Homo sapiens: one gene and its partner. The main gene of each other region encodes a partner of the protein of the gene in region 2 in a complex. Each region holds a gene or a part of one and is shown on either strand. Other genes may lie near its edges. The genes, in order: TSEN34 and TSEN15. A codon is read from its position in the direction of its gene.

Region 1 (15,082 bases), on a different chromosome or scaffold from region 2:
TTGCTAAATACCACCTAAATGTCCTTGACCAGCTTAAAAAAACAAGCACCAGCCTGGACAACATGGTGAAAACCCATCTCCACTAATAATAGAAAATTAGCCAGGCTTGGTGGCCCATGCCTGTGATTCCAGCTACTTAGGAGGCTAAGACAGGAGAATCGCTTGAACTCTGGAGGCGGAGTTTGCAGTGAGCCAAGATTGCGACAACTACACTCCAGCATGGGCAATGGAGCGAGACTCCGTCTCAAAAGTAAAATTAGCCAGGTGTGGTGGCGTGCGCCTGTCTGTAGTCCCAGCTACTTGGGAGGCTAAGATAGGAGAATTGTTTGAACCCAGGAGGCGGGGGTTGCAGTAAGCCGAAATGGCGCCACGGCACTCCAGCCTGGGCAACAGAGCAAGACTCCGTCTCAAAAGACTAAATAAAACGAGAAAACTTAATTAAAAAAACAATAAACCAAGCAAATGTGCAAACCCTGTTATCACCATCACTTAGCCCAGAAATTCCACTTCATAGTCTACTCTCATCCACTAGCAAACAGGCCACATAAACAGAATATAAAGATATAGACGGGTGCCCAGGTGTGCCAGGCCTATCTTTAGCTCTGGTCATTACTAAACTGAAGGTCCAATAACTGGGCAAAAAAGCCACACACCTAAGAAACAGGGCAAAGACTGATCCAGATACACTTTTCCTACTCCACAAGTGCCACTAAAAGTTAGAAGGCTGGTTCCATTTATCCAATGACACAACTCTCATCACTGGAACAGAGGCAACAGAAGGGAGAATGAACCTCACAAGCCCTGCACCCCATCCCTCTGCTGTGGACTCCCATACGCACCTTCGAACAGACGCCGTGGGTCCTTCTCATCAAGCGTCAGCAGTTCCCGGGCGGCCTTGCGGATCTTGGCCAGGGTAAATTTGACCCTCCAGACCTCACGTTTGTTCCGGAGCCCATACTCGCCTGGTGGGGAGAAGGGGGTGGACAAGTGTAGTCCCACGTACTGGCACAACAACTAGACTGGCAGCTTTGGAATCACAAAACCTTCCTAAACCACGAATAGTACCAAATTTAGGGGACGGACTAGATAGAGTACATGGGCACCTTCATCCACGTGCTAACCGCCTCCCGGAAGCCGAACCACTTCCCGGAAGCCTTGGCCACTCACCGATCAGCTTCAGCTCTTGGTCGAGACGAGATTTCTCGAAGGGTCTCCGCGGGGTCACATAAGTTTTGCGACAAACCCAGCTCCGGGCCACTGGCATGTTGGCTCCGCTTCCCCGTCTGCGCCTGCGCGGGAGAGAAGTGTGAGCGTAAGGGATCCAAACGGCGCCTGCGCAGTCCCACAACTACGCCAAAACCTCGCGGAGCCCAGATCCGATCTCGCGAGAATAACCTCCAACGCTCTCATAGTCAGTATCTGCCCCCACAACCGTGCTGCACTCCCGTTCAACCACCCTGCTCTGTTTCCTAACGTCTTTAGCTTACTCATGGAAACTCGGAAGGCCCGGGCCACCATCCAACCCAAACCCTAGAGAAAAAGCACACCACCGCACCTCACCTAAGCAAACCACCCGGTCACTGAGAAAGAGGCGCGGAAGCGCCACGGCTGCGCTCTTATAGTAACGCCGGCGTCTCGTGACGTTTTCACGCACCACGCACGTCAGAGCCAATCAGAAGAGGCGTTGGCTGGCTGAGAAGCAGTGGAGACGTGAGGCTGGGCTAGAGCGGCGTGCTAACCTGGGAGGACTAGGTTTTTTCCGGCCAGGGAGTGGAAACCTGAGAAGTAGGGAGAACCTTCCTTCTCCGCCCCTGGACGGTGGTTTTTCTTTTTCTTTCTGAGACAGGGTCTCGCTCCGTCGCCCAGGCTGGAGTGCAGTGGCGTGATTTCGGCTCACTGAGGCCCCGACCAACCTCTCGGGCTCGAGCGATCCTCCCACCTCCTCCCCAGTAGCTGGGATTACAGGCACACGCCACGACGCCCGGGTAGCATTTTTTTTTTTTAACAGTCGGCGTCTTGCCATGTTGCCCAGGCTGGTCTTGAACTCCCGGCCTCGAGAGAGCCTCCCGCCGTGGCCCCCCCAAAGTGCTGGGATTACAGGCGTGAGCCACCGCGCCCAGCCGAGATTATTTCTGTCACTAACAATAATGTGGCATTCTGGAACGCTATGTGCCACATACTGTTCTAAGAATTTTAAATGTATTTACTCAATCTTCAATACATACTTACAGAGCACTCTCAGAGAAGTTGCCCCCCCACCCATGGTACTATTATTATCAATAGCCACTTAAGGGGTATTAGTACTATTATCAGTAATTTATTTTATTTTTGAGACGGAGTTTTTCGCTCTCGTCACCCAGGCTGGAGTGCAGTGGTGCGATCTCGGCTCACTGCAACCTCCGCTTCCCGGGTTCAATCGATTCTCGTGCCTCAGCCTCCCGAGAAGCTGGGACTACAGGCGCCCACCACCATGCCCGGCTAATTTTTAAATTTTTAGTAGAGACGGGGTTTTGAACTCCTGGTCTCCAACGCCTGACCTCAAGTGATCCACCCGCCTCAGCCTCCCAAAGTGCTAAGATTACAGGTGTGAGCCACCGCGCCTGACCTAGAGTTCTCTTTTTATATATAGTCTGGTTATTGTCTGTCTGTACACCCATCTCTCCACTCCGAATGCGATGGTCTGTCTCCACAGCTCGTGTTCTTCAGTTGTCTTCCCTACGCTGCTGCCTCGGCAGTCACTATCTCCTCAGGAAGCAGTCCCACCCGCCCCTTTCTCTTCCACGGCATCCACACCATCCGGATGCCTGGATTCAAATGCCACGTCACCACTTGCCAGCTGCAGTGCCTTCGACAAGTTTCTCAATCACTCTGTGCCTCAGCGTCCTCCTCTGTAAAACGGCGAATGATGGTAGCGCCTACCTCATAAGCTTGTGAGGATTAAGTGAGAGTCTATCCAGTGTTGAGGAGAGTGGCATAAATAAAGCGCCTAGTGGTAGCTACCATCGTCATTATTGTCATCTGCATTGTACTTCCATATCTTACAAACTACCTTGTTCAGTTTTATGGGTTTTTTGTTTGTTTGTTTTGTTGTTTTGAGACGGGGTTTTGCCATATTGCCCAGGCTGGTCTTGAACTCCTGGGCTCAAGTGATCCACTCGCCTCAGCCTCCCCAAGTGCTGGGATTACAGGTGTAAGCCACCATGCCTGGCCAAATTTTATGCATTTTTGTATCTTGAACACGCGTATATTATTCATCTGGAAGGGGGAAACGTGGAAGGAAAAAACTTCCATAAGTTTTCACTCCCTTCAGGATGAAGTCCAAGCTCCACAAATTCCGGGTGCCTCGTGATTACAGAGATGGTTTTATAATGGTGGTTGAACCTGTAGGTTCTCAAGTCTTAAAAAAGATCTGCGTTTGAACCTCAGCAGTCACTGACGAGCTCTTGATCTTAGGCAAATTAGCCTCTTCAAGAGTGCTAAATGGGAGAAAGTAACAGGACTTTCCTCATAGGGTTTGATGATTTAGAGTAAAAAAAAAAAAAAAAGAAAAGAAAACCAGCACAGAGTCTTGTGTACTGAAGGTGCTTAATATCTTAACACAGCTGACTCTGTACAGTCTGGGGGCGAGGGGCACTGACCCCCAGCTCAGCCGAAAACCTCCATATAGGCTGGGCGCGGTGCCTCACGCCTGTAATCCCAGCACTATGTGGAAGGCCAAGGCCGGCGGATCAACTGAGGTCAGGAGTTCGAGACCAGCCTGGCCAACATGACAAAACCTGGTCTCTACTAAAAATACAAAAATTAGGCAGGCGTGGTGGCAGGTGCCTGTAATCCCAGCTACTTAGGAGGTTGAGGCAAGAGCATCACTTGAACCCAGGACGTGGAGATTGCAGTGAGCCGAGATCGCACCACTGCACTCCATCCTGGGCGACAGAGCAAGACTGCCTCAAAAAAAAAAAAAAAAATCAAGAAAGAAAATCTGCATATAACTTTTGACTTCCCCAAAACTTAACTACTAGGCCAGGCACCGTGGCTCACACCTGTAACCCCAGGTGGGATTTGGGAAGCTGAGGTGGGCAGAGCACTTGAGCCCAGGAGTTCAAGACCAGCCTGGGCAACACGGCAAAACCCAGACTCTACAGAAAACAGAAAAATTAACTGGGTGTGGTGGTGTGTGCCCGTAGTTCCAGCTACTTGGGAGGCTGTGGTGGGAGGACTGCTTGAGTCAAGGAGGTTGAGGCAGCAGCGAACTAAGATCATGCCCCTGCACCCCAGCCCAGCTGGCAGAGCAAGACACTGTCTCAGGATTTAAAAAAAACATTACTCGTAGTTGACTGGAAGCCTTACCAATAACATAGTCAATTAACACATATTTTATATGCTATATGTATTATATTCTGTATTCCTATGATGAATTAAGCTAGAGAAAAGAAAATATTGGCCGGGCGTGATGGCTCATGCCTGTTACCCCAGCACTTTGGGAGGCTAAGGCGGGCGGATCACCAGGTCAGGAGATCGAGACCATCCTGGCTAACACGGTGAAACCCCATCTCTACTAAAAATACAAAAAATTAGCCGGGCGTGGTGGCAGGCACCTGTAGTCCCAGCTACCGGGGAGGCTGAGGCAGGAGAATGGCGTGAACCCGGGAGGCGGAGCTTGCAGTGAGCTAAGATCGCGCCACTGCACTCCAGCTTGGGTGACAGAGCGAGACTTCGTCTCAAAAAAAAAAAAAAAGAAAATATTAAGAAAATTCTAAAAAAGAGAAAATATATTTACTATTCATTAAGTGGAAGTGGATCATCATAAAGGTCTTCATCCTTGTCTTCATTCTGAGTAGGCAGAGGTGCAGAAAGAAGAGGAGGGTTTGGTCTTGCTGTCTCAGGGTGCCAGAGGTGGAGGAGGTAAAAGGCAAAGCAGGAGAGGCAGGCATGCTCTGTGTAACCTTTACTTTTTTCAATCTGCATAAAAGTGGACCCGAGCAGTTCAGACCCATGTTGCTCAAGGGTCAACTGATGAGATCTGGCCTCACCCTGATCCTCTTCAGAAGCATGGTCCAGTCATATGGCACCAGGCCCTCTTCCACAAACCCCTCATGCTTCCTCCTCTCTCTCTCTCACTCAGGCTGGAGCCCTCTAGCCCTTCCTCTCTGAAAGGAGCACGGGTAATATAAGAGGAACCCTTGGTTTCCATCATGGGTTGCCAAGGACCAGCTGGGCATGCTTGGGGAGCTGAATTCCTTTCCTTTTGTACAAGTGTAATAAAATCTAATTATGCCCCATCCATAGGACGCAAAACCATGTAGCTGTTGGCAAAAATGAGACAAGCCTGGGCATATCCAATAAGCAAGATGCAGAAGTGTGCATAGTATGCTACAATTTTCATTAATAAAAATGACCTTAACGTATGTATATTTATTTAAAATATGCTTAGAAAGTCATGTAGGAGAAATTATAATTTCCAAATTGTCTCAGCCCTGATTTAAAAATTATAGTTTAAGCCACTCATTTATTTAGCAACAATGTATTGACTGCTGTGTGCCAGGAACTGTTCTTGGACCTGGGGATACTGCATGAACAAGGGTAAATAAAAGAAAAACCAAAACCAAAACCTTGTCCTTAACTAGAAACAAATGCCAATCACCTGATGAATGGATAAATAAAATGGGGTTATGTCCATACAATGGAATATCCAGCAGTAAAGAGGAACAAAGCTGGCCGGGCACGGTGGCTCATGTCTATAATCCTAGCACTTTGGGAGGCTGAGGTGGGCGGATTGCCTGAGCTCAGGAGTTCGAGCCTGGGCAATTATGGTGAAACCCTGTCTCTACTAAAATACAAAAAATTAGCCTGACGTGGTGGCAGGCGCCTGTAATCCCAGGTACTTGGGAGGCTGAGGTGGGAGAATCGCTTGAACCCACTTGAACCCAGGAGGCAGAGGCTGCAGTGGGCCGAGATTGTGCCACTGCACTCCAGCCTGGGCAACAGAGCAAGACTCTGTCTCAAAAATAAAAAAAATAAATAATAATAATAATAATAAGCAAGGAAGAGAATGCACATGGCCAGTTCATGAGGAAGCTGCAAAGTAGGACCTTTGAGTTTTACTCTGAGATGGAAAACTCCAGGAAAGTTTTAGACAGAGCTGTGACATGGTCTGACTTATCTTTTAATATGATGATTCTGGCCGGGCGCGGTGGCTCACGCCTGTAACCCCAGCACTTTGGGAGGCCGAGGCGGGTGGATCACAAGGTCAGGAGATCGAGACCATCCTGGCTAACATGGTGAAACCCCGTCTCTACTAAAAATACAAAAAATTAGCCAGGTGAGGTGGCGGGCGCCTGTAGTCCCGGCTACTAGGGAGGCTGAGGCAGGAGAATGGCGTGAACCTGGGAGGCGGAGCTTGCAGTGAGCAGAGATCGCGCCACTGCACTCCAGCCTGGGCGACAGCGAGACTCCGCCTCAAAAAAAAAAAAAAACAAAAAAACAAAAAAAAAACGATGATTCTGGCTGCTCTGTTGAAAACAGACAACAGAGGGGCAAGAATGGAAGGCAGGGGATGAGTTAGGAAGCTATCAATATCAAATGAGCCATGGTTTGGTTTTTCTAAGATACTGGCAGTGAAGGTGGAGGGTGGGGCCTAACTGTGGATCCACAGTGCTTTGAACATGGCACCTATAGAATTTGTTGACTGACAACATGGGGGGACACCAGTCACAAAAGTTTTTTTTTGTTTGTTTGTTTTAAATAGAGATGAGATGAGGTCTCACTATGTTCAGCCAAGGCTGGTCTCAAACTCCTGAGCTCAGCGGCTCAACTGATCTTCCCACCTTGGCCTCCCAAAGTGCTAGGATTACAGGTCTGAGCCACCACATCTGGCCACAGGAGTTTTAAATGAGGAACTTTTCAGAGGAGAGACTCATGACAGAGGGAATGAGACTTCTAAGTACTTTGTTGTAGAGAGGAGAAAGGGTGGAGAATAGACTTACAAAGCCAATTATGAAGCAGGCACAAAGAGAGTATTGGCCAGACAGGGGTTAGCGTCATTTTTTTTCTTTTCATTTTTTTGAGATGGAGTTTAGCTCTTGTTGCCCAGGCTGGAGTGTAGTAGTGCGATCTTGGCTCACTGCAACCTCTGCCTCCCGGATTCAAGTGATTCTCCTGCCTTAGGCTCCTGAGTAGCTAGGAGTACAGGCGCATGCCACCACGCCCGGCTAATTTTTTTTTTTGTATTTTTAGTAGAGATGGGGTTTCACCATATTGGCCAGGCTGATCTCAAACTCATCTGCCCACCTCAGCCTCCCAAAGTGCTGGGATTACAGGTGTGAGCCACCACACCTGGCCCAGTGTCATATTTTAAATTAATCTAAACTTACAGGAAATTGAGATTCTATGAAGTCTGTTTACTGGGAATGGCAAGAAAGAGGGGAGATGGGAGTCTCTCTAAACCTATTCTGGTTCCAGAGGCTGCTCAATTCACACAAAAAAGAGAAAGAATGAAACATGGGGGGAAGAAATGGAAGAACTAGAGGTGGAGACTTTCAGCCCCAGAATTTTACCATGTGGAAGTTTTTGTTTGTTTTTGTTTTTTTGAGACAGTGTCTAGCTCTGTCGCCCAGACTGGAGTGCAGTGGCGTGACCTTGGCTCACTGCAACCTCCACCTCCCAGATTCAAGTGATTCTCCTGCCTCAGCCTCCGGAGTAGCTAGGATTACAGGCGCCCGCCACCACGCCCGGCTAATTTTTGTATTTTTCATAGAGGCGGGCCATGTTGGCCAGGATGCTCTGGAACTCCTGACCTCATGATCCGCCCGCCTTGGTCTCCCAAAGTGCTGGGATTACAAGCATAAGCCACCACGCCCAGACTCACCATGTGAATGTATTACACTGACAAAATAAACGTGACAAAATAAAACTGCACATTGATAAGATAAAGGTGTAATTATTGGAATAGTGGTAGTGTTCTAGTACTTTCTTAAGCAAAAACATGGGTAAATGATTTCATAAGTGCAAATTTTTTACAAATACATGTGTTTTAGCTTTTATAAAAATTGCAGAATATAACACATCCAAAAAAGAGTCTAAAATATAAATATACAGTATCAAAAAAATTCACCACTACCCAGGCCATGAAAAAGCAGAACGCCTTCCAGAGTCCTTCCTTTCTCCCCAGGCTCTGAACTCCTAAAATTACAATACTCATTTCCTTTCATAATATATATATATATACACACACATATATATACATACATGTGTGTATATTTACATATATACACACACACATATATATATTTTTTGAGACAGGTTCTTGCTCTGTCTCCCAGGCTGGAGGGCAGTGGTGCAATCACAGCTCACAGCAGCCTCAACTTCCCAGGCTCAAGGGATCCCTGGCTAATTTTTTTTTAAATTATTTTTTGTAGAGACTGGGTATTACAATGTTGCCAGAGCTGGTCTCAAACTCCTGGGCTCAAGCGATCCCCCTGCCTTGGCCTCCAAAAGTTCTGTGGGATTACAGGTGTGGGTCATCGTGCCCAGCCTATATTTTTATTTATAACGTTTGTATGCATCTGGGAAATTTCATAGAAATCTTTTCAAAAGGAAGTTTAGTGAGGTAGAAAGAGTGCAGATTTAGGAGTCAGAAAAACCAATTTTGAAAGGCCAGGCCTGCTATTTACTAAGTGTGTGACTTTGGGCAAGTCAGTCCCCCTCCTCCAGGCCTTTTTCTCACCTGTACATGCAGATGAGACCATCCACGGGTTCCAGGACTGTCGCAAACATTCAAATCATGAACATTTATATACCAAGTTTATTGAGACCTCCTGAGACTTAAACCCTGTAGAAAACAGATGAATCAAACCCAGGCCCCATTCTCGGGAAGCTCACAGTGTGAAAATAGGTAACTACAAAAACACAGCCAATAAGTGCTTTGAAACAAGGAAGAACATAAAAAAGATGTAGTGTTCGAAAACCTGGAATCAAAAACTAACCGCGGAGAAAGGTAGGAGGATGTTCTAGACTCCCAGAGAAGAGCTGGGGAACATCCAGAAAGGCTCTTGCTGCCGACACAGCCACATCCCCTAGGTCTCTGGAGTTCACTGCAGGCTGGCCCATTGCAGGGAGGTGTAGACCACCTTACCATCAGGCTGCGGAGAACAGAGGAGCAGGGTCTTTCTGACGCTGGTTCCAAGGCGCCCAGCAGCAACCAGGTCTTGGAGTGGGATGGTGTCCTCAGGGGCCCAGCACTGAGCGATATAATGGGCGTGGAAGCGGAGGGGGTCACCTGGGGGAAGGAGAGAGGCACTGAAGCAGTGACCAATGGCAGACGGCTGGACGCCACGGGAACGACCACTGGGAGGAGATCTGAGATCATTTCAGCCATCACTATAGATACTCTAAAACAGATGCTCTTGGACACAACTATTCCACTTCTAGGCTTTTTTTTTTTTTTTGAGACAAAGTCTCGCTCTTGTCCCCCAGGCTGGAGTGCAATGGCACGATCTTGGCTCACTACAACCTCTGCCCCCTGGGTTCACATGATTCTCCTGCTTCAGCCTCCCGAGTAGCTGGAAATACAGGCACCCACCACCACGCCCAGTTAGTTTTAGTATTTTTAGTAGAGATGGGGTTTCACCATGTTGGCCAGACTGGTATCAAACTCCTGACCTCAGGTGATCCACCTGTCTTGGCCTCCCAAAGTGTTGGGATTACAGGCGTGAGCCATTGCGCCCAGCCTGATGTCTAACTACTTCTAAGTGAATCTTCTGGATCACAGTAATCATTTAATAAAAGTCGTTAAACTGCTTGCCCAATGAGTTCGGGAGCTCCCAAATGTTTCCTGTCTGTCTATGAATTTCAGAGGCTAAGAGAAAGTGAGACAAAAAAGAAAAATGCAGCTGGGCCTATAATTCCAGCACTTTGGGGGGCCGAGGTGGAAGGATTGCTTGAGCCCAGGAATAGGGACCAGCCTAAGCAACAAGAGACCCCACCTCTATTAAGACAAAAAAAAAAAAAAAGAAAAACGCAGAATACATTGGGATCGTATGGAAAGGCACAGCAACCAGAGGCCCCAACCCATACTCACCAGGATAGACCAGGAAGTCACCTCCGAACTTGCCAGCCGCACTGAGGAAGAAGCCTCGCTCCCACAGGTCTCTGTAGATACTGTAGCGCAGCTCGTGGGCAGGGCGGCCGGCGTGGGGCCAGTCTTTAGACTGGACACGCCAGTCCAGGGGCCTGGCCTTGACCGGTCGAGGCCTGGCAGTGGCCAGCTGGACAAGGAGAGCAGATCTGGGCAAGGGGGCTACCCCATTTGAGGGTCCTGCTTGGGAAGACGAGGGGCCTGGTGGGGAGTACAGAGAAGAGTTTGGTAAATTCAAGGGGTAAAGTCTTCTCACCCTCAGGGAGACCCAGGCACTGGATTCCCAGCTAAAATTCCTAAAAGATCTCTCCTCTCCTTCCCGTGGTCCCTGGACTCCACCTCCCATGCTCACCAGCTTCCTCCTGCTCTCCCGAAGCCTGGCCATCACTGGTCTCATCCTCTTTGGCAGCCTGGCTCGAGCCGGCCTCCTGGCTTGAGCTGGCCCCTGAAGCCTGTTCTAGTTTCTGCTTCTTAGCAGCCTGGCCCTCCGTAATCTTCTCCAGGAGCTCCTGACGACGGGTCTCCCGGGCCTCAGCTGCCAAGGCGCTCTGCTCCTGGAAGCTCTCCTCTTGCTGGCGCTTGAAGGATGTCAGGGCCTGAGAAGCACACTTCGCTGGAACCTCCAAGCTTATGGTCCCTTCAGAAGCCAGGAAACTTGACTCCCAGGTCCCGCTCCCACCGAACCCGAGTTCGAGCCCCGCCCCCTTACCAGGCTGTGGTGCCGAGAGTCTGGACGCGGGGCGCTGACCAGAGTCACGGCGCCGATCTCGGCCAAGAGCCGCGCCTCTTCGGGCATCAGCAGCAGCGGGAGGCCCAGGCGCGAGTTCTGGCGGGGCCCGCGGGGCAGGGCGCCTACCGTGCGGCCCCCCACACCCAGGCGCTCCCGGAGGGCCTGCACCGCCTCGGCTCCCCACACCAGGGAGCGGCCGTTCGCCACCTCCACCACCAGCATCCTCCTGCGGGAGCCGGGAGGCAAAGCAGTTACCGAAACAGCTGCGCGCCGCGGACCGCTGCAGCGCACCCAAAGCCTCCGGGGTCTCGGCGAAGCCCCGCCCCTAGGCCTCAGGGGGCGGGGCCTCGCTCAGCCGCCGTTCACCACCTGCTGGGCCCGAGCGCCAGGCCCCGCCCCCGGGCGATCCCACCAGGCCTCGCGGCCGCCGGAGACGAGACGCCGGAGACAAGCCCCCGACCCTCTCCCCTCGCCAAGCCCCCAGGGTCCCGCTCTACCCTTGTGACCCTGCGGTCGGCACCCGCTCTGTGCCCGCACTGCCGTACCTACCATTGCGCCTTGGAGCGTGAAAAACAAACCTCCGCAAGCGCGGCGACACGCCCCCTTACAAAGGTCCATTTTGGCACCACCCTCTTGCAAAGTGGGCGTCCCCCTTCGGGTGTTCCCGTCAGCGGTCAGAAGCTCTGGAGGCTAAGGCACCGCCGAGGCCACACCCTCTTCCGGACGCTCGAGCCTTCGCTCCTCCTCTTTCCGAACGACTGTGATTCGGCTTTCGGACCTCCTCGCTCTCAGACTCCCACAGTACAAAACCCTGCCCCCTCCCGAGCACAGGAAGTTCGGCGTTCGGGCGTCCTCGGCTCCACCGAATCCGCAGCCCCGCCCCCTTCTCGAACGCCAGCAATTTGACGTTCGGGTGTTCTCGGCTCGGCCGAATCCGTAGCCCCGCCTCCTCCCGGACGCAATAGGTTCGGCGTTCGGGCGTCATCGGCTCCCGGCAGCCTCGCGGCCTGTGGCCCCGCCCCCTCCGAGCGCCAGCGCACCCCAGTTGGGGAGTTCCCGCCCTACGACCGAACCCCACAGCCGAAAGCCCCGCCCCCTGGACACCCGCCGTCCACTCTCCGCTCGGGCGGGCTCACCCCAATTGGGAGCGCTCAGTCCGCCTCCTTGCCTCCCTTCAGAATGTCCCACTGTCCACCGATAGAACCAGCGAGTCACCTCATAAACAGTAATTCGCAGTCGAGGTGGAGCCACCCACTGCGCACCGCGCCACGCGCTCCTTGCTCCACCCCCTCATGCCGACACCCTCGTCAACTTCGTCATCCCGCCCCATCAGCGCCGCGGGAAGTCAGGTCCCGCCCCTCGCAGGACCGAAGCCCCGCCCTCCTCCCGCGGGGGCCACCTTGGCTCCGCCCCACTGAGCGCACCTCCCTCTGCCGCTTCCTCTCCTCTACTTGGGAACTTGAGGATCGTCATCCTGGCCCGGTCCCGTAGGCGCACGCCGGCCCTCGGGGTTCCGCCCCTTTGAGGGCAAGTCGCTTTCGCCCCGCCCCCTTGTAAATACTCATGGGTGTCTGGCGAACCTGTTGACTCCGCCTATCATCCTAGCGTCACTTGTACCCAACTATCTACGAAGTAAACCGAAGCTTGTGGCCCCACCCACATCCGGCCGAGTCTGTGGCCCCGCCCACATCGGAACAGTGACCCTAAGGACTCGACTACCTCCGAAGAAAGCCGAAACATGTGGCTCCGCCCACAGTGGCCTCAGCTCTCCGTTCTCGACTATTGCCGAAGTGAGCCGAAGTTTGTGGCCCCGCTTCCGGAGAACTCAAGCTCCCGATTGTGCCCGAAGGAACCCGAAGGGAGACCCCGCCTCATTCCTCACGCCGAGCTCCAGACCCCGCCTCCTTTCCAGAGCCCGTCTGTTCCCCTTCGGGTCCAAAGCTTTTGGCTCCTCCTTGTTCCGAGCCCGAAGGCCCGCCCCTTCACGTACTCGGAGCTCGGATCCCAGTGTGGACCTGGACTCGAATCCCGTTGCCGACTCGCGCTCTCGGCTTCTGCTCCGGGGCTTCTTCCCTGCCCGCCCGGGGCCCTGACCGTGGCTTCTTCCCCGGCCTGATCTGCGCAGCCCGGCGGGCGCCCAGAAGGAGCAGGCGGCGCGGGGGCGCGCTGGGCGGGGGAGGCGTGGCCGGAGCTGCGGCGGCAAGCGGGCTGGGACTGCTCGGCCGCCTCCTGCCCGGCGAGCAGCTCAGGTGGGCCAGGGTGGCGGCGCCCAGTGGCGAGGCGAGGTTACACGGCGGCAGGGTCTCTGCGGGCTGGCGGGTGCGGGGCGGCCCCGGAGGCGCGTTGGAACTCGGGGCTGGCGCAACCGCCTGTGGCTCTGCCGGGGATGCGCTGGGGTGCGCGGGACGGGTTGGGGCTGGGCCTGGGCCTGGGCCTGGGGAGGGGAGGGTGTTCGATCCCCGGGTTCTCAGTAGGAGAGGGGTGTGGAGCTCCGAAGGAGGTGCAGGTTGGAGACCCGGGCTCCTCTGGGTGGTCTCGAAGGAGAAGGGCTGGGGGGTCCGGATATCTGGTTTCACAAGGGCCGGGGGATGGGGGATCCAAAGAGGGGGTCTGGGTTCCTGGATCCTCGCTGGAAGAGGGGGCTCGGAGGTCTAGATTCCTGGGCTGTCGAAGAGGAAGGGTCCGGGAGGGGTGCCGTTTCTGGGTTTTTAAAAGAGGGGCGTCTTCAAATCTGGGTCCCCAGTATGGGTGCGGGGAGTAGCTTTGATTTCTGCGTTCGCAAAGGAGGGGCTTGGGTGCTGGGAGATCCCCACACTTTCCTGGGTTCTCCAAGGACAGGAGAGCTGGAGGCCTGTGCGCTCAAAGGAGGGGCTGGGGGTGGATTCCTGTCTCCTCCAAGGAGGAAGGGGCTGGAGTCTGGGTTGCTAGGTTCTCAAAGGAGAGGAGCTGAGGCTCATACTCCATCATCCTCAAAAACTGGGGTCTAGAAGGCTGGGTTCCTGGATCCTCGAAGAGGGAGGAGGCAGGGGGCCTGGATTCCTGGGTTCTCACTGTGAATCTCTGCCCCTCCCCCAGACCATGTCGCCTGAAGAATGGACGTATCTAGTGGTTCTTCTTATCTCCATCCCCATCGGCTTCCTCTTTAAGAAAGCCGGTGAGTCAGGCTCCCTCCCCAGTGGAAAATAAAGGGGGGGGACCCTCTGGAAGGTTCCAGGCTTATGCTGTCCCTTCCCCCTGCAGGTCCTGGGCTGAAGAGATGGGGAGCAGCCGCTGTGGGCCTGGGGCTCACCCTGTTCACCTGTGGCCCCCACACTTTGCATTCTCTGGTCACCATCCTCGGGACCTGGGCCCTCATTCAGGCCCAGCCCTGGTGAGAATTTGGTGGAGGGAGGAGAGGGAGAGGAGGGGAGAGGGGGAAGCAACCTGTTTCCTCTTTGAGTCTTTTTCAGCTTCTGCCTCATGTCTAGCTGTCTCTTGTTGATCAGCTCATTTCTCTGTTTCATGTTTGTTTGTTTGTCTTTCTTTCTTTCTTTCTTTCTTTCTTTCTTTCTTTCTTTCTTTCTTTCTTTCTGAGATGGAGTTTCGCTCCTGTTGCCCAGGCTGCAGTTCAGTGGCACGATCTTGGCTCACTGCAACCTCCACCTCCCGGGTTCAAGCGATTCTCTTGCCTCAGCCTCCCAAGTAGCTGGGATTACAGGCATGCTCCACCATGCCTGGCTAATCTTGAATTTTTAATAGAGCTGGGGTTTCTCCATGTTGGTCAGGCTGATCTCGAACTCCTGACCTTGTGATCTGCCCACCTCAGCCTTCCAAAGTGCTGGGATTACAGGCGTGAGCCACCGCATCCGGCCTTCATCTGCTTTTCTTTCTCCCCTGCCTTCTGCGTCTGGTCCCTGTGTGTTTGTCCCAGTCCGCTACATCCATGTCATGGAGAGAGGTGGACAGTGTGTCTGCTGGCCTGGCCACCGTTCATATTCATTCATATCCACCTCTCTCTTCTTGAGCCCTGGACCTCGGAAATAAAGAAAAAGTGGAGGATTGCAGGGTCTTCACCCGAAGCTTCTCTTAACCTCATTCTCTGTTGGTGTGTGTTTCTATGTGGCTGAGCCTCTTCTCCCACTGTTTCAATCATACTCATTCGGTCCCTACATCCACCCTCCTGTCCTCTCTGCCCTTCTGTGTTTCTGTCTCTAAACGAATGGGGAGAGCTGGGGGAGGAT
Region 2 (15,113 bases):
CTTAAGACTTTATAGTCTGGGGCTCTTTCTACTAGACTGCTATGTATTCAGTCATAGTCAGCTAGAAAAAATGTTAAGTATTCATCAACGGTATTCATGCTGGAATTTAAGAGGCTCTGCTCTTTTCCCTACTTATATGCCACCCAAATAGAGCTGTGTTTTCATTTGTTCATTCTTCCCATACCCCACTCTCAGAGGTTTACAGCACCCCTTTACATGCTCAATATTACTCTCCTCCACTATCCTCTTGAATCCATCCTTCCTCATCTCTCAAGAATCTTGCTCCATCAATAATTGTCATCTCTTTTCTATTTTCAGACTTTCTGTAGGACAGCTCACGTGGCAGCTGGCTTCCTTTATAGTAAGCAAGAGAGAGTGCCCAAGATAGAAGCCACAGTCTTTTGTAACCTAATCTTAGAAGTTACATTCCTATCATTTTTGCCAAATTTTATTCATTAGAAAGAAGTCACTGAGTCCAGGTCACACTCAAGGGAAGAGAGTTACATAAGGGAGTGAATACCAGAATTAGGAGAAGCCATCTTAGAAGCTGCCTGCTACAGCTTCTAAAGAAGAAATGCATAAGGGAGGCTTGCTAACCAGATACCAAGACTTCTTACCAAGCAAGCGATTAAGAGATATGGTATTGGCAAAAGGACAGATAAACTGGCTAATGGAATATAATAGAGAACCCAGAAACAAATTAATGCATGTTTGGAACTTTGGAAAGTAGCAGAAGTGATATGTCAGATAGTGAGGAAAGGAGGGACTATTCAGTAAATGGAGGTAGAAAAAGTGGTTATCCACATGACAATGGTATCCCTAACCGCCTCTCACACCATTAAAAACAAGAACAATAGAACTCTTAGTGAAAATATAAGTATTTTTTAGACCGTTAGATAGAAAATATTTCTTAAACTAGACACAAAGACGTTGATTATAAAAGATGGATAAATATGATTATATTCAAATTAAGAACTGTTACTCATTGAAAGACATCTTAAGACAGTGAAAGACAGACTTAAAAACTGGAAAACACAATAAAAAAACTATTAGGTCAAGAATATATAAAGAATTCATACAAGTCAATGAGAAAACTAAAAACAACCCAACAGGCAAAAGATATGAACAGATATTTCTTATAAATAATACATATATAAAGAAATATTCAGTATTATGAGTAATAAGGGAAATGTAAATTAAGACCAAAATAAGAATAATCCATTCCATTGGCAAAAATTTAAAAGTCTGACAATACTAAATGTGAGAGACAATACAGCTCCAAAGGATCTTATTTACACTGCAGGTGAAAAGTAAATTGAGGCAACCACTTTGAAAATAGTTTGAAATTATCTCCTAAAGTTAAACATTAGCAACACTCCATCATCGAGGGAGTGGATGTAAAAATGGTGGTATAATCACACAATGGAATGTTATGTGGCAGCTCAAAAAATGCACAAGAATGGATGAATTTTAGTAATATAATATTAAGTGTATAAGGTCAGCCTTAAAAGATAAGATTTTTTAATTAAAGTTAAAAACATCTAAAATTTAAAAATTCCCAATGTACATGGAATTCAGAATGAGTTACCTCAGGTCAGTGAAAGCACGTTAAGGAAGGGACTTATAAGATTAGATGTTAGTTATTATCAAGAATCTAGTTTTGCTTTGGGTGATGGGTACAGAGATACTTATTACATTATTAAAAATAACTAAGTAAATAAATAAAAACCAAGCATGAACTAATAATGAGAGTATGTCATGAAACAAAGACATGTTTAATCCAATGCTGTGTACCTAAGCTTTTTAAAAAAAGGTCCTAAAAAAAGTCTCTTTTTTAAAGCTTTTAAAAAAAGCTACATGAAAATTTGATTTCAGCTTGCATGTTAATCATGCTTTTCACCAACTGCTATATAAAGTATAATTTGTATTACATGGTACATCTTATAACAGCTGTTATTTCATATGTAATGGTCTTGCTTCCTTACCAAGAATATAAATATTTCTACCATACATACTGTCTCTGAAAAAGTACTGACCATAGAGTAAGTGCTAAATAAATACTTGTTGAATGCTTGATATACTTTGTATATTTGTTCCTGCCCAAATCCCATGTTGAACTGTAATCCCCAATGTTGGAGGTGGGGCCTGGTGGGAGATGTTTGGGTTATAGGGGTAAATCCTTCATGGCTGAGTGCTGTCTTCAGGACAATGAGTTCTCGTGAGATCTGGTCATTTAAAAGTGTGTGGAACCTCCCCCTCAACACTCTCTCTCACTCCTGCTTTTGCCATATGATGTGCCTGCTCTTGCTTCACGAACTTCCTCCATGATTATAAGCTTCCTGAGGCCTCCCTAGAAGCCGAGTAGATGCCAGCACCATGCTTACTGTAAAGCCTTCAGAACTATGAGCCACTTAAACCTCTTCTTTTTTTTTTAAGAAATTACTCAGTCTCAGGTATTTCTTTATAGCAATGCAAGAATGGCCGAATACAACACTCATATTTAACTTATTCCTCAAATAGCCAAGAGTAAAGCTATGAACCCTGTATCCCAAATTTCATTAAAAGTATTACATCACTATGTTTAATGTTTCCTACTGCTTTACTCGGGAAAGGAACTTAGACCAAAATCACCTGCTCACCTGTTATGGCTGAGGGAAGCAGTGATGGGGGTAGGCACCACAGTCTGTAACCCCTCCCCTTCTATCTCAGTACCAACAAGGCAGATGAGCTGGAGTTCTGGTAATCCTACACAGTTTACTTCATGCCAGCTTTTGCCTGAAAGAGCATCATTGAATGGACAATAATGTTTATTAAATACAAAAAATAAAAACTCCAAACTTCTACCTAATACTCAGCTGAGCAAATATCACTCGTAACACTACCTCCTGTCTTTGCTTTTCTAGTAGCTTCTGTTACTCAGTAATTCCCAATGTAAATAAATAAATTGCAAAATTAACAGCAAATGCATAAAAGATTGCTTATTATGTTAAGAATGCTATATCCCAATCCAACCCCCCAAATCTCTACCACAGTCCCAATAACAAAACAATATAAACAAACAACTTACTTTCCATGAGGTCCAGGTAAACCAAGAACGCTACATAAACTTGGGTGGCATCTCCTATATCTAATTCCATCATTTCTAGATACTGAAAATTAAAATATAATTGTCAAATTGAGAAGAAAAAATTATTTAATATTTTCTTCCAATCATCAAGTGGTCATCAAGCATATATAATCTATAAAATTCTTCTAGGTATAGTGGAAGTTAAAAGGCAATATAAGATCTTATCTCTGTCTCTAAAGAACTTGCAATTGTTAAATACATGCACACTTAAAATTGTTAGGCAAATAACAATATATGACTGTAAGTGATTAAAAACCATGTAAATGGAATAAAAAACATGACACAGCAGGTCAGAAGAGCTCTACTCAGAGGGACTGGTGAAAGATTTATAGCAGAGGTGGGATGGGATACAAGTTGAGCACTGAAGAACATTATGATTTAAGTAAGTGGAGAAGTAGAGTAATACTGCAGGTAATTACACAAAGGTGGGATTAAGCCACATACATTCAAGGGCCTGTAAAGAAACCTATCTGCCAGCAATAGAGAAACCTTTTTAATAAAACTTGTGATGGGACATGTTAGTGGGTACTGTGTATTTCCCTAGCCTCTTATTTGTATATGGAGAGAATCTGCTAGAGTATCAGTCCTAGCCTCTCTACCCACTCTTTCTCACTTTAAGAGTAGATTTTTTAAAAGGAATTGACAAGGAACTAGAGAAAGCTGCTTCTTTCAGACTACTGGTCAGCATAAGGGGAATACTTTTCAGGGGCCTACACCTGCAGGAGAATTCTGAGGCTGCCCAGCTATGCCAGCGACTAGGTGGATATGCAGGGCTAATGCTGAGTTGAATTATTAGCAGACCTGCATGGGGACAGGTCTAAAGTCACATTCTCCCATCAGCTTCACTGTAACTGTACAGGTTCAGGAGGACAGGGGTTAATTAGTTGTCGACTTCAAACATGTTTTGAAAATAACACCCAAAACATAATTTTGAGCCAGGTTACAAGGCTTTGGTGGTCAAGCTAAACATGTGATTTTATCAGTATGGAAACACTGAGGATTTCTAAGCAGGAGAATAATAAAATAAAAGTGTGTTTGGGGATAATAAATCTGGTACCATTTTACTGGATGAAACTACATAATTTTTAAATTAACAGAAAGGTGAAATTGGAAAAACAAATACCCCCTATTATTTTATTACTTGTTCTTTTTCTTTTAAAAATTAATTTGATCCTTCAAGAAGAGAAATCAAAAGGGGAGATTTGATGGTCAAGGTGTATACAGCCATTAACTTGAAAAAGAAAACAATCTACAAGTATATAAACTGAATAACACCACCAAATCTAGATAAAGTCTTAAAAAGTTGTTACTGGTGTTTCGCTTATTAAGTACTTATATAGTGCTTTCTGTATGTTGAATGGCTTACAAATATTCATTAATTTAATCCTGTAACAACCGTATAAGTAAGTATGGACTATTAATATCCCCATTTTTCAGGTGAGGAAACTAAGGCATAATAAGATCAAGCAACTTGTCCCAAATCACAAGGTTGATAAGTGACAGAATCAGGATTTAAACTGAGTCTGATTTTGAGTTCATGCGCCTAACCAATATGCTGCCTCTCCATGCTATTGTTTCCCTAAAAGGGCACTAAATAATATTTCCATGCTATTGTTTCTTTTTCTCACCTTTTGGGAGGATGAAGGGGACAGAGTAGGAAGATAAAATTAAGCAAGAGAAGCTGAAAAAGGTTAACTCTTCAAACTTATACCTTCAAATTTTTTCTTGGCTGTTTTTAGATGATTATGAATTATTGCTCTCTAGCAGAAGAGTGCAATTCTGTTAAAGTACCGTAGAGACTAGTTTTTGAGATTCTTACAAAACCCACATCTCCATTCACTGTCTATTCACTGCTTGGAACCGTACTTGTACAAGGCAGTAATGTCTCAAGCAGAAGTAAGCAGAGGACTATCTTGATCTCGCCTGCTGCTAATCTAGAAAAATACACGCAAAATGTGAGTAGCTCTGCTTTGAGCAAGAACCTATTCAAACTTTCGAAGAAATCTGAAATATTAGGAATCTGCACCTTTTCAAAATAAAGATGCATTCTGGGCCCAAGGCTAAGTGTAAACGTGACTGTGCTTAAATCTTTATCACTATGGACCCCTAGATCTTATCCATCGCCCACAAATTGTCTTGCATGGTTACCGTGAGGATTAAATAAATTTATCCCCCAAAGGGGATTTACCTAGACAGCAAAACTAGTGGAGCGCTTATTAGGGATCTCCGGCTTGAGAGGGGCGGAGTTACTGTCTGGCTCTCAGTTCCAAAATGGCTTTGGCTGGGGGATTGAGATAGTGCAACTTGTTTAAACAAACAAAACCGATGCTGCCTGAGGCTGGCAGTTGTGCACACCGGTCCCCCTCGGTGAGGGTGGCGCGCGTCCTCAGTCTCCCACTGAGGAAGAAAGAAAGAGAGCTGCCTGGGAGTGTTCTGCCTGGGTTAGGGGCCTGGACGGCGCCCTGCTCCTCTCGCGCCTCCTGACCTTAGGGTGAGTGCCCATCCAGGCGTCCTCAGGGGCCCACGAAGGAGCTCCACCGCCGTCGCCAAAGCCGCGAACACCGCCCGGACCCAGGCCGCTGCAGCCGGGGGTCGGCTCGGAATCGCCGCGCTCCTCCATGCCGGCCGGTGCGGCGCTCCCGTGGTGCACCACGACCCGCGCCCGGCCAGAAGCAGCGGCGCGCGCGCCTGTGGGTTCCGCTTCCCCGAGGCTCGCAGCTGCAGTGCGAGAGGGCTCAGAAACTGGGAGGAAAGTTGCATCAGCCCCTCCTTCTGACCAAGGTAGCTAGAACCTGCGCGAACGCTCTCTAGTTTCGCTCTGCGTTTATTCAAATCTGAGCAAATTCTAACGTGAAAAATATTAAAGAGTAGCCTGCGCCCTGAAGCTCTTAATCCTCTTTAAGTCAGTGCTGCCGATAACTCTCTGAGAAAGTTGGGGGATACATACGTCCTCTTTGCCTTCAGCAGTGGGGTCCTGGTTTCTGATTGCTGGGGACGGGAAAGGCCTTACTCAGTGCCCTGACATAGAACTTTAAAGTAGAACCATACTTTCAGGGTGGACCCACGTTTCAGGATTAGAGGAAACACGAGTTGCTGAACGAGTGTTCAGAAAGGTAGGATACAAACTAGCATAAGCATGTGATCTGGAAGCCAAGGATGAGGAGTTTCAAACAGGCAGAGTAGCACATTTTAAGTATTTTTTAATTTACTGTGAGTGAAATGGGAAGCTATTGGAGGCTCCTGGACGTTTTCATAGGATCACTCTGACTGATATGTTGAGGATAGACTGGAGGGAGCAAGGACACAAACAGAGACTGGTTAGGAGGCTATCGCATTGACCAGGACAAGGGTGACTCAAAATCCAAAGTCCCAGGCAGGACATAACTTCTGTTTTCAACCATGATAGACTAAGACCCTAGTGGACCATCCCCCAGCAGAAAACAATTTGGACACAATGCAAAAAGCTGAATATACTGGAATGTGAATAGTGGACTGGTAGGAAGGGCAAGCTTGCTTGAAGATCAGGAACTACACTTGGACACAATACAAAAAGCTGAATATACTGGAATGTGAACAGCAGACTGGTAGGAAGGGCAAGCTTGCTTGAAGATCAAGAACTCCACAAGAAAATTCTCCTCTCTTTGGCATTTAGCTTGGGGCAAAGTGCAGTCCAGAAGTCAGGCTCAGCAGTACCAGGGATGCATGTATAAAACTTATCAGTTATTCTTGTCTGGGGAAGCAGAAAAGTGAAGACAGAAAATTTTGAATTCTGAAGAGATTAAGAAATCCCAAGGAAGGAGTCAGAGAGTGGATCCCCAAACTGTCAACCCACATCTCTGAGAGATCCTGAACCACCCAAAACAGAATCACAGCAGCTCAGTTAAAAACAAAAGATCTGAACTGAGACCAGAGCTGTCTCCAAAAGGGAGAGAGTTTTCAGTTAAAATCTAGCCGGGAAAATTACCTACTAATACAAAGGAAATAACACTCATCAGAGAAGAATAATAGAATCCAGACTCTCCACTTAACACTCACAAAGTCCAGAGTACTATCCAAAACTATCTGACATATGAAATTCAAGGAAATGGATCGCATACTCTAGAGATCAACCCTGAGATGAATCAGATATTGAAACTGACAGATAAGGATTTTAAAGTGACTATTATAACTATCCTCAATGAAGTAAAACATGTTTTCAATGAATGAAAATCTCAGGAGACAAATAGAAAATCTCAGCAAAGAAAAAGAAAAAAAAAGATTTTTAAAACCAAATGGAAATTCTGAAAATTGAAAATTATAATTTTAGAAATAAAAAATTCACTGGGTGAATTTAACAGCCAAAAAAAATTACAAAAGAAAAAGTAGGGAACTTGAAGATAGAGCAATAGAAATTATTAAAAGTAAACAACAAAGAGAAAAATTATCTTTAAAAAGTGAGTAGACCAACAGAGATTTGCTACATGTCAGACAATCCAACATGCATGTAAACAACAGAAGTAGAAAAAAAAAGGGACAGAAAAAATTTTTGAAGAAAGAGTGGTGGCCAGAATTTCCCCAAATTTGATGAAAAACACATTTACTAGTACAAAATGCTAAATACATAGCAACTAAAATAAACACAAAGAAGTCTACATTGTAATAAAACTATTGAAAGTCAAAAAAATAAAGAGAAAAGCTTGAATGCATCAAAAGAAATAACACATCATACACAGGGAAAAGAAGGGCATCTATTATTGAATGAAATGTAAAGCCACACATGAAGATTCATATGTTGCCCTCAAATACATTACATTTGAATGAACCTTTGCCACCACAAAGCAGCTGCTAAGCCCGAAAGAAGAAAATGGCACTGAAATTAATTGGGTCATTGAAGCATGAAACACTGACACGAATTCAAGTGATTGGAAGTGAATAAATCTCTCTGACTCCTAAAGATCCAAATCAGTTCATATGATGGCATTTTTAAAAGCATTAAGAGTATTTTGATGCTAATCTGAGTAGAGGGAAACTTTTATAAATCAGTAAGGATATCCAATGGGATTAGGGACTATATGAACCAGCCTCAAACATCTGCAGGGGAAGAATTTCAGCTTATGTTCAAGAAAAAATAATTGGGGGTATGGAAAGAACCATAAACCAAAAAAGCAACAGATAAATGCCATCCTTTGGCAAATAGATTAAATACTGTTGCTTAGAAAAAGCATGATACATTCAAGAATGAGTATTACGTGCTTTTCAAAAGAGTTGAAGAATGAAAAGGGAGTGTCTGTTAGCTTCCCTGTTAATGTAAATTTTTAAATAGGTCTTGGTGATTGTGAATGGCTAAGAATGAACACAAAGGATTTGGGAACACTTAGACAACCCAGTATTTAAAGTACAGAATCAAAATACCTATTGTGACAATCTAGAGTGAAATCCACTAGAGAACAGAGGAGAGTTTCAGTGTCTGGTATCCTGGAGGATTTCTCATTTTGTAAATGCTTCAATAGTTCACTCTATTAGAGAACCAAAGTAGTGAGAAAAAAAAGCTAGATAAGAAACAACGAATGAAATCCCCCCTGAGTATATTGGATTTAATCAAATTCATTGTAATCTGGCACTTGCTGAACTCATTTCCCAATGATATCCTGAGCCAGATCATTTTATTCCTACAAAAATCTGTAATGTCTAGCCAGAGACATATTAATTCAGTAAGAGTCTCGAGGAAATGCGAACACTAAATTGTGATGTGAATCTCTAGTGTGGAAAGAAAATTTAAAAAAGAAGAAGAAAAGCTTTTACACAGTATTGTATGAGACAGTGATTCCAAGCTGAAAAATGTAGCCTAGCATTCTGGATCAGCTTTTCATTCATTGGTTGTAAGGAGGTTCACATATATCTTGTTCCTTTTTTTGTACACAAAACACACAATTTCCTATTCTCTGTGTTTCAAGAACAGAGAAAGATTCAAGAAAGAGAATGATTCAATATTGTAAAGATGGCAATTTCCTCCAAAGTTATTTACAGATTCTATCAATTCCAATTAAAATCCCAAAAAGTATTTTCTTAATACCTGATAAACTGATTCTGAAATGTGGGCATAAAGGGCCAAAAATAACCAAGACCCTTTTTGTGAACAAAAGGGAGAGAACTTACGAAGTTAAAGTTCTGAAATATAAATATCTTATAAAGATAAGGTTTTAAACAAAATTTAAATTCTTACAAAGATCTCTAATTACAAGTATGTGATATTGGCACATGGATAGGTAAAACCAATGAAGCAAAATAGGGAGCCAGGCAACAGACCCATACACATGTGGGCAGATGCAAGAAGGGAAGGAGAGAAGGGGTGATTGGCTACACGGTATAGGCAAACACTTTTAAATCTCTAGGAGAAAATATAAAAGAATATTTTATGACCCCAAGTTTAAGAGTGATTTCTTAAGACACAAAAAGCACAAACCATATGCTTCACTCATGTCCCTGTGAAGACACCACCAAACAGGCTTTGTGTGAGCAACAAGGCTGTTTATTCCACCTGGGTGCAGGTGGGCTGAGTCTGAAAATAGAGTCAGCGAAGGGAAATAGGGGTGGAGCCGTTTTATAGGATTTGGGTAGGTAAAGGAAAATTACAGTCAAAGGGGGTTGTTCTCTGGCGGGCAGGGGTCGGGGAGGGGGGGGTCACAAGGTGCTCAGTGGGGGAGCTTTTGAGCCAGGATGAGCCAGGAGAAGGAATTTCACAAGGTAATGTCATCAGTTAAGGCAGGAAGAGGCCATCTTCACTTCTTTTGTGATTCTTTAGTTATTTCAGGCCATCTGGATGTATATGTGCAGGTCACGGGGAATATGATGGCTTAGCTTGGGCTCAGAGGCCTGACAATATGGAAAAAATTTGGTAAATTTAACTGTATCTCAGTTAAGAATTTCCAACACTAAGAGAGTGGAAGGAAAATGACATCTGTAACACACAATTGAAAGAAAAGATACCCAGAATATATACAGAACTCCTAAAAATCAATTAGGAAACAAAACAAAACACTCCTTAGGTTAAAAAAAAGAAAGTAAACAGAAAAAAAGACATAAAAGGCCAGCAAACATAACTTGATGTTCAGCAACATTGATTGAGTGAGAAAATGTAAATTGAGGCAAGAAGATACCATAATACACCTATCAGATTAGCAACAAAAGCCAAGAGTTGGCAGAAAAGTAGACCAAAGGGAAGATGCACAAATCCTATGATCCAACAATTCTAATCCCAGGTATATATTCTAGAGCAATATTTTTAAATGAAGTGCCAGGACCTGTTAGTGGTTGTGAAATACACTAGTTATTTTAGTTATGTTAGTGGTTAGTGGGTTGAGTACAGTTTTCAAAAAGTAATTATTTAAAACACACATAGAGTTTCAATCAACAACTTGAATGAATCTCATAAAAACTAAAAACCTAATGTATAGTCAAAATGTTAGTTATAGAAGCGTATATAAGATATTTGATTTGTTTAAAATTCTAATATAGCAGCTGTATTTATAATAGCCCAGAAGTGGAAACAACCCAAATGTCCCTCAGCTGATGAAAATATAAAGTAGTATGTTCATACAGTGGAATATTATTCAGCATTAAAAAGGAATAAAGTACTCATGCTACAACATCAATGGACCTTGAAAACATAGTAAGTGAAAGAAGCCAATCACAAGGGGTCACATATTGTAGAATTCCATTTATGTGTAATGTCTAAAGTAGGTAAATCTATAGAGACAGAAAGTAGATTAGTGAGAGAGTAGCACGAGCTGGGAGACATAAGGATTGATCACTAATGAGTATAGGTTTCTTTTTGTGGTGATAAAAATGTACTAAAATTGATTGTGATCGTGTTGCATAACTATGAATACACTAAAAACCTTTGCATTGTGTACTTTAAATAGGTGAATTGTATGGTATTTGAAGAAAAATTCAAATGCAGGCAAAACTAACACACATTTAGGAGATGTACCAGAGTTCTCCAGAGAACAGAACCAAAAAGAGAGAATGAGATTGATTTTAAGGAATTGGCTCATGTGATTGTGGGGGCTTGAAAACCTGAAATCTGTGGAAGGCAGGCTGGCAAGTTGGAGACCCAGGAAAGAGCTTATTTTGCAGTCTTGAGTCCAAGGGCAATCCAGAGTCAGAATTCCTTTTTTCATGGAGAATCCCATTCTTTTAAGGCCTTCAACAGATGGGATGGCAACCCACATTATGAAGCGTAATCTGCTTTACTCAAAGTCTACTGATTTAAATATTAATCACATTTGAAAAATATCTCACAGCAATATCTAGACTGGTTTGACCAAGAAACTGGGCACCCTAGTGTAGTGAAGTTGACCCGTAAAATTAACCATCACAGGAGGTAAAGTTCTAAACAAAATGAAGAGACTGATTAACACAAAATTCAGTCTAGTACTTATCTCTGGGGAATGGAACAAAGCATTGTGACAAGAAGGGACTCAGGGCTTCAGAGTTAATGGTCATGTTCTGTTTCTCAAGGTGGGTGCTGGGTATATGGATATCCATTTTATTAGTAGTATTTAAATTAATGTATTAGTTTATGGATTATATCTGTTAGTTTATATTTCATGTTTATTAAATATTTTTATTAAAATTTTTCTAATATCTAGAGTACAAAGTGATAGTAAGTTAGGCAATTTCTATAAGTAAACAGATGCATATATGCAACCTTAAATAATGCCTGGCTTTGTAAATATGAAAAGACATCAAAAGCAATCCATGGTCCAAAAAATATCCCATGTCTATCTCTAGATATTTAGTCAACATCTGCTATCAACATGGATATTGAGTCTCACTGAAGAGGACTGAGTACAAACCCACATTGAAAATGTGCAAATTAAAAATGCCATATTAAAATTACCCCAAAATGTTAATGGTTGTGGTGGAGTAGTGGATCATGAGTGATTTTTTTCTTTTTTTCCCCCATTTTCAACATTTTTTAAAGTTCTATAGTAAAATAGACTTTAATAAATCATTGAATTTTAGAGCCTTTGGCCTAGAAGGGCTAATACAACACTCCACATTCATGTTAAAATATATCTTACGGCTTATTTACCTTGCTTAAATGTCCCTCCCTGCTTTCTTCTATTCCTCTCTCCTTCTCCCTCTCTCTGTCCTTTCTTCCTTCTTTCCTTCCTTCTTCTCCTCCCCATCTAAAACATCCAGTACAACATTAAACAGACGTAATGAGATCTGACATTCTTATCTTGTTTCTGATCACAGGAGGAACACTCAGTCTTTCACCATTAAGGATGATGTTAGCTGGGGGCTTTTTGTAGATGCTGTTTATTACGTTGAGGAAGTTCCCTTCTATTCCTATATACTGAGAATTTTTATGAGGAATTCATGTTGGATTCATAAATGCTTTCTCTGCATTTCTTGAGATGATCATATGATTTTTCAAGTTTGTTAATAAATCACATGGATTGACTTTTTCTTATTTTCTTATTGTGGTAAAATACATATAACAAAAAATTTACTATTTTAAGTGGTATTAAATACATTCATAATGTTGTGCAACTATTACTCATATCCATCTCCATGACTCTTTTATCTTTAAAACTGAAACATATACCCATTAAACAATAACTCCCCATTTCCCCTACCCCCATCCCCTTGGCAACCACCATTCTATTTTGTCTCTGTAATTTTGACTAACTACCTTATATAAGTTGAATCATACAATATTTGCCTTTAAAAATTGGCTTATTTCACTTAGCATAATGCCCTCAAAGTTAACATGTTGTAGCATATGTCAGAATTTCCTCCCTTCTTGAGACTGAATACTATTCCACTGTATGTATATACCACATTTTGCTTTTCCATTCACTAATCAATAGGCACCTGGTTTGCTTCCATATTTTAGCTATTGTGAATAATGCCACTGTGAACATGGGTGCACAAATATCTCTTTGAGACTTTGCTTTCAATTTGTTTGGGTATATAGCTAGAAGTAGAAGTGTTAGATTATATGGTAATTATATTTTTAATTTCTTGAACTGTCATACTGTTTTCCACAGCAGCTGTACCATTTTACATTCCCACCAACAGTGCACAATGTTCCAATTTTTCTACACCCTTGCCAACATTTGTTATTTTCTGTGTTTTTCTAGTAGCCATCCTAATGAGTGTGAAGTGATAAATCTTATAGTTTTGAATTGCATTTCCTAAGGATTAGTGATGTTGAGAAACTTTTCATGTGCTTATGGCCATTTGTATATCTTCTTTGGAGAAATGTTTATTCAAAGTCCTTTGCCCATTTTAAAGAAATGATTATATATAAAATTGTATAAAACCGTATAATTTTCTAGCTTTCTCTGTTACTACTTCCCATCCTATCTCCCAGCCATGCCCTGTTCATTGTATCTCTCAAGTGTGTCATACTGTTTCATTCCTTGCTCCTGCAGTTCCATCTACCTGGAATTCCCATCTCTTTCCCCTTCTGTCTTCCTTTTCTTAGTCCATGCTACTCATTTTTCTTTTCTTATATTTCGAATCAAATTATATTTTTTTCAGCTTTTAAGTTCAGCAGTACATGTGCAGATTTGTTACATAGGTAAACTTGTTTCATGGGGGTTTTTGATACAGAGTATTTCATTACCCAGGTATTTAACCTAGTACCCATTACTTATTTTTCCTGATCCTCTCTCTCCTCCCACCTTCCATGCTCCAATACGCCCCAGTTTGTGTTGTTCCCCTCTATGTGTCCATGTGTTCTCATCATTTAGTTCCCACTTATAAGTGAGAACATGTGGTATTTGGTTTTCTGTTCCTGCATTGGTTTGCTTAAGGATAATGGCATCCAGCTCCATCCATGTCCCTGTAAAAGACATTATCTCATTCTTTTTTATGGCTGCATAGTATTCTATGATGTGTATGCACCACATTTTGTTTACCCAGTCTATCATTGATGGGCATTTAGGTTGATTCCATGTCTTCATTATTGTGAGTAGTGCTGCAATGAACATACACGTGCATGTGTCTTTATGATAGAATGATTTATATTCCTTTGGGTATATAACCAGTAATGGGATTACCTGATCGATGGTCTTTAGGACTTTGAGGAATTGCCACACTGTCTTCTACAATGGTTCAACTAATTTACACTCCCACCAACAGTGTATAAGCGTTTTTTTTTTCTCCACAACCTTGCCAGCATGTTATTTCTTGACTTTTTAGTAGCCATTCCGATGGTGTGAGATGGTATCTCATTGTGGTTATCCTATAATTCTCAGCCTATCACAGCTGCCCCAGAGGCATTTATTTCCTCCTCTTCTTCGCTGTGGTTTTTACTTGAACTTCTCCAATAATCAATGATGTTGAGCTTTCCTTCATATGATTGTTGTCCACATCTATACCTTCTTTTGAAAAGTATCTGTTCGTGTCCTTTGCCCACTTTTTAATGGAGTTGTTTGGTTTTTCCCTCTTGTAAATTTGCTTAAGTTCCTTTTAGATACTGGATATTAGACCCTTGTCAGATGCATAGTTTGCAAAATTTTTCTCCCATTCTGTAAGTTGTCTGATTACTCTATTGATAGTTTCTTTTGCTATGCAGGAGCTCAGTTAATTAGATCCCATTTGTCAATTTTTGTTTTTGTTGCAATTGTTTTTCACATCTTCTTCATGAAATCGTTGCCAGTGCTCATGTCCTGAATGATATTGCCAAGGTTGTATTCTAGGGTTTTTAGAGTTTTGGGTTTTACATTTACATTTATAAGCCATCTTGAGTCAATTTTTGTATCTGGTGTAAGGAAAGGGTCCAGTTTCAAGCTTCTGTGTATGGCTAGCCGATTATACCAGCACCATTTATTGAATAGAGAATCCTTTCCCCATTGCTTGTTATTGTCAGGTTTGTCAAAGATCAGGTAGCTGTAGGTGTGCAGTCTTATTTCTGGGTTCTCTGTTCTGTTCCATTGGTCTATGTGTCTGTTTTTGTACTAGGATCATGCTGTTTTGGTTACTCTAG

Evidence for each region.
Region 1: the proteins of TSEN15 (region 2) and TSEN34 are in contact, whole or in part, in a crystal structure (PDB 6Z9U), measured with the Homo sapiens proteins. Residues at the interface, in NP_443197.1 of Homo sapiens: Leu70 (codon at 3,077), Lys74, Trp76, Thr108, Pro109, Ile110, Thr111, Ala112, Ser113, Leu114, Ser115, His116, Asn117, Ile119, Arg120, Leu123, Leu141, Ile143, Val151, Tyr152, Tyr153, Lys154, Leu155, Thr156, Asp157, Gly158, Phe159, Met160, Leu161, Pro162; in NP_001070914.1 of Homo sapiens: Pro251 (codon at 9,269), Leu252 (codon at 9,266), Arg253 (codon at 9,263), Phe254 (codon at 9,260), His255 (codon at 9,257), Ala256 (codon at 9,254), His257 (codon at 9,251), Tyr258 (codon at 9,248), Pro265 (codon at 9,227), Glu266 (codon at 9,224), Asp267 (codon at 9,221), Thr268 (codon at 9,218), Ile269 (codon at 9,215), Pro270 (codon at 9,212), Leu271 (codon at 9,209), Gln272 (codon at 9,206), Leu274 (codon at 9,200), Ser283 (codon at 9,173), Val284 (codon at 9,170), Arg285 (codon at 9,167), Lys286 (codon at 9,164), Thr287 (codon at 9,161), Leu289 (codon at 9,155), Leu290 (codon at 9,152), Cys291 (codon at 9,149), Ser292 (codon at 9,146), Gln294 (codon at 9,140), Val300 (codon at 9,122), Tyr301 (codon at 9,119), Thr302 (codon at 9,116).

Annotation. Positions count from the first base shown.
Region 1 is NC_000019.10:54,187,367-54,202,448, reverse strand, and holds TSEN34 (tRNA-splicing endonuclease subunit Sen34), read right to left. Parts: upstream 11,142-15,082; 5' UTR 11,085-11,141; coding exon 10,842-11,084; intron 10,729-10,841; coding exon 10,485-10,728; intron 10,334-10,484; coding exon 10,076-10,333; intron 9,275-10,075; coding exon 9,087-9,274; 3' UTR 8,828-9,086; coding exon of another isoform or gene 8,778-8,827; 3' UTR 7,917-8,777; downstream 1-7,916. Other genes in the region: RPS9 (small ribosomal subunit protein uS4), read right to left, coding at 840-962, 1,168-1,264; membrane-bound acylglycerophosphatidylinositol O-acyltransferase MBOAT7, read left to right, coding at 13,941-14,016, 14,103-14,232. UniProt on the Homo sapiens protein: Constitutes one of the two catalytic subunit of the tRNA-splicing endonuclease complex, a complex responsible for identification and cleavage of the splice sites in pre-tRNA. It cleaves pre-tRNA at the 5'- and 3'-splice sites to release the intron.
Region 2 is NC_000001.11:184,042,390-184,057,502, reverse strand, and holds the start of TSEN15 (tRNA-splicing endonuclease subunit Sen15), read right to left. Parts: upstream 5,774-15,113; 5' UTR 5,748-5,773; coding exon 5,613-5,747; intron 3,150-5,612; coding exon 3,068-3,149; intron 2,776-3,067; coding exon 2,640-2,775; intron 1-2,639. UniProt on the Homo sapiens protein: Non-catalytic subunit of the tRNA-splicing endonuclease complex, a complex responsible for identification and cleavage of the splice sites in pre-tRNA. It cleaves pre-tRNA at the 5' and 3' splice sites to release the intron.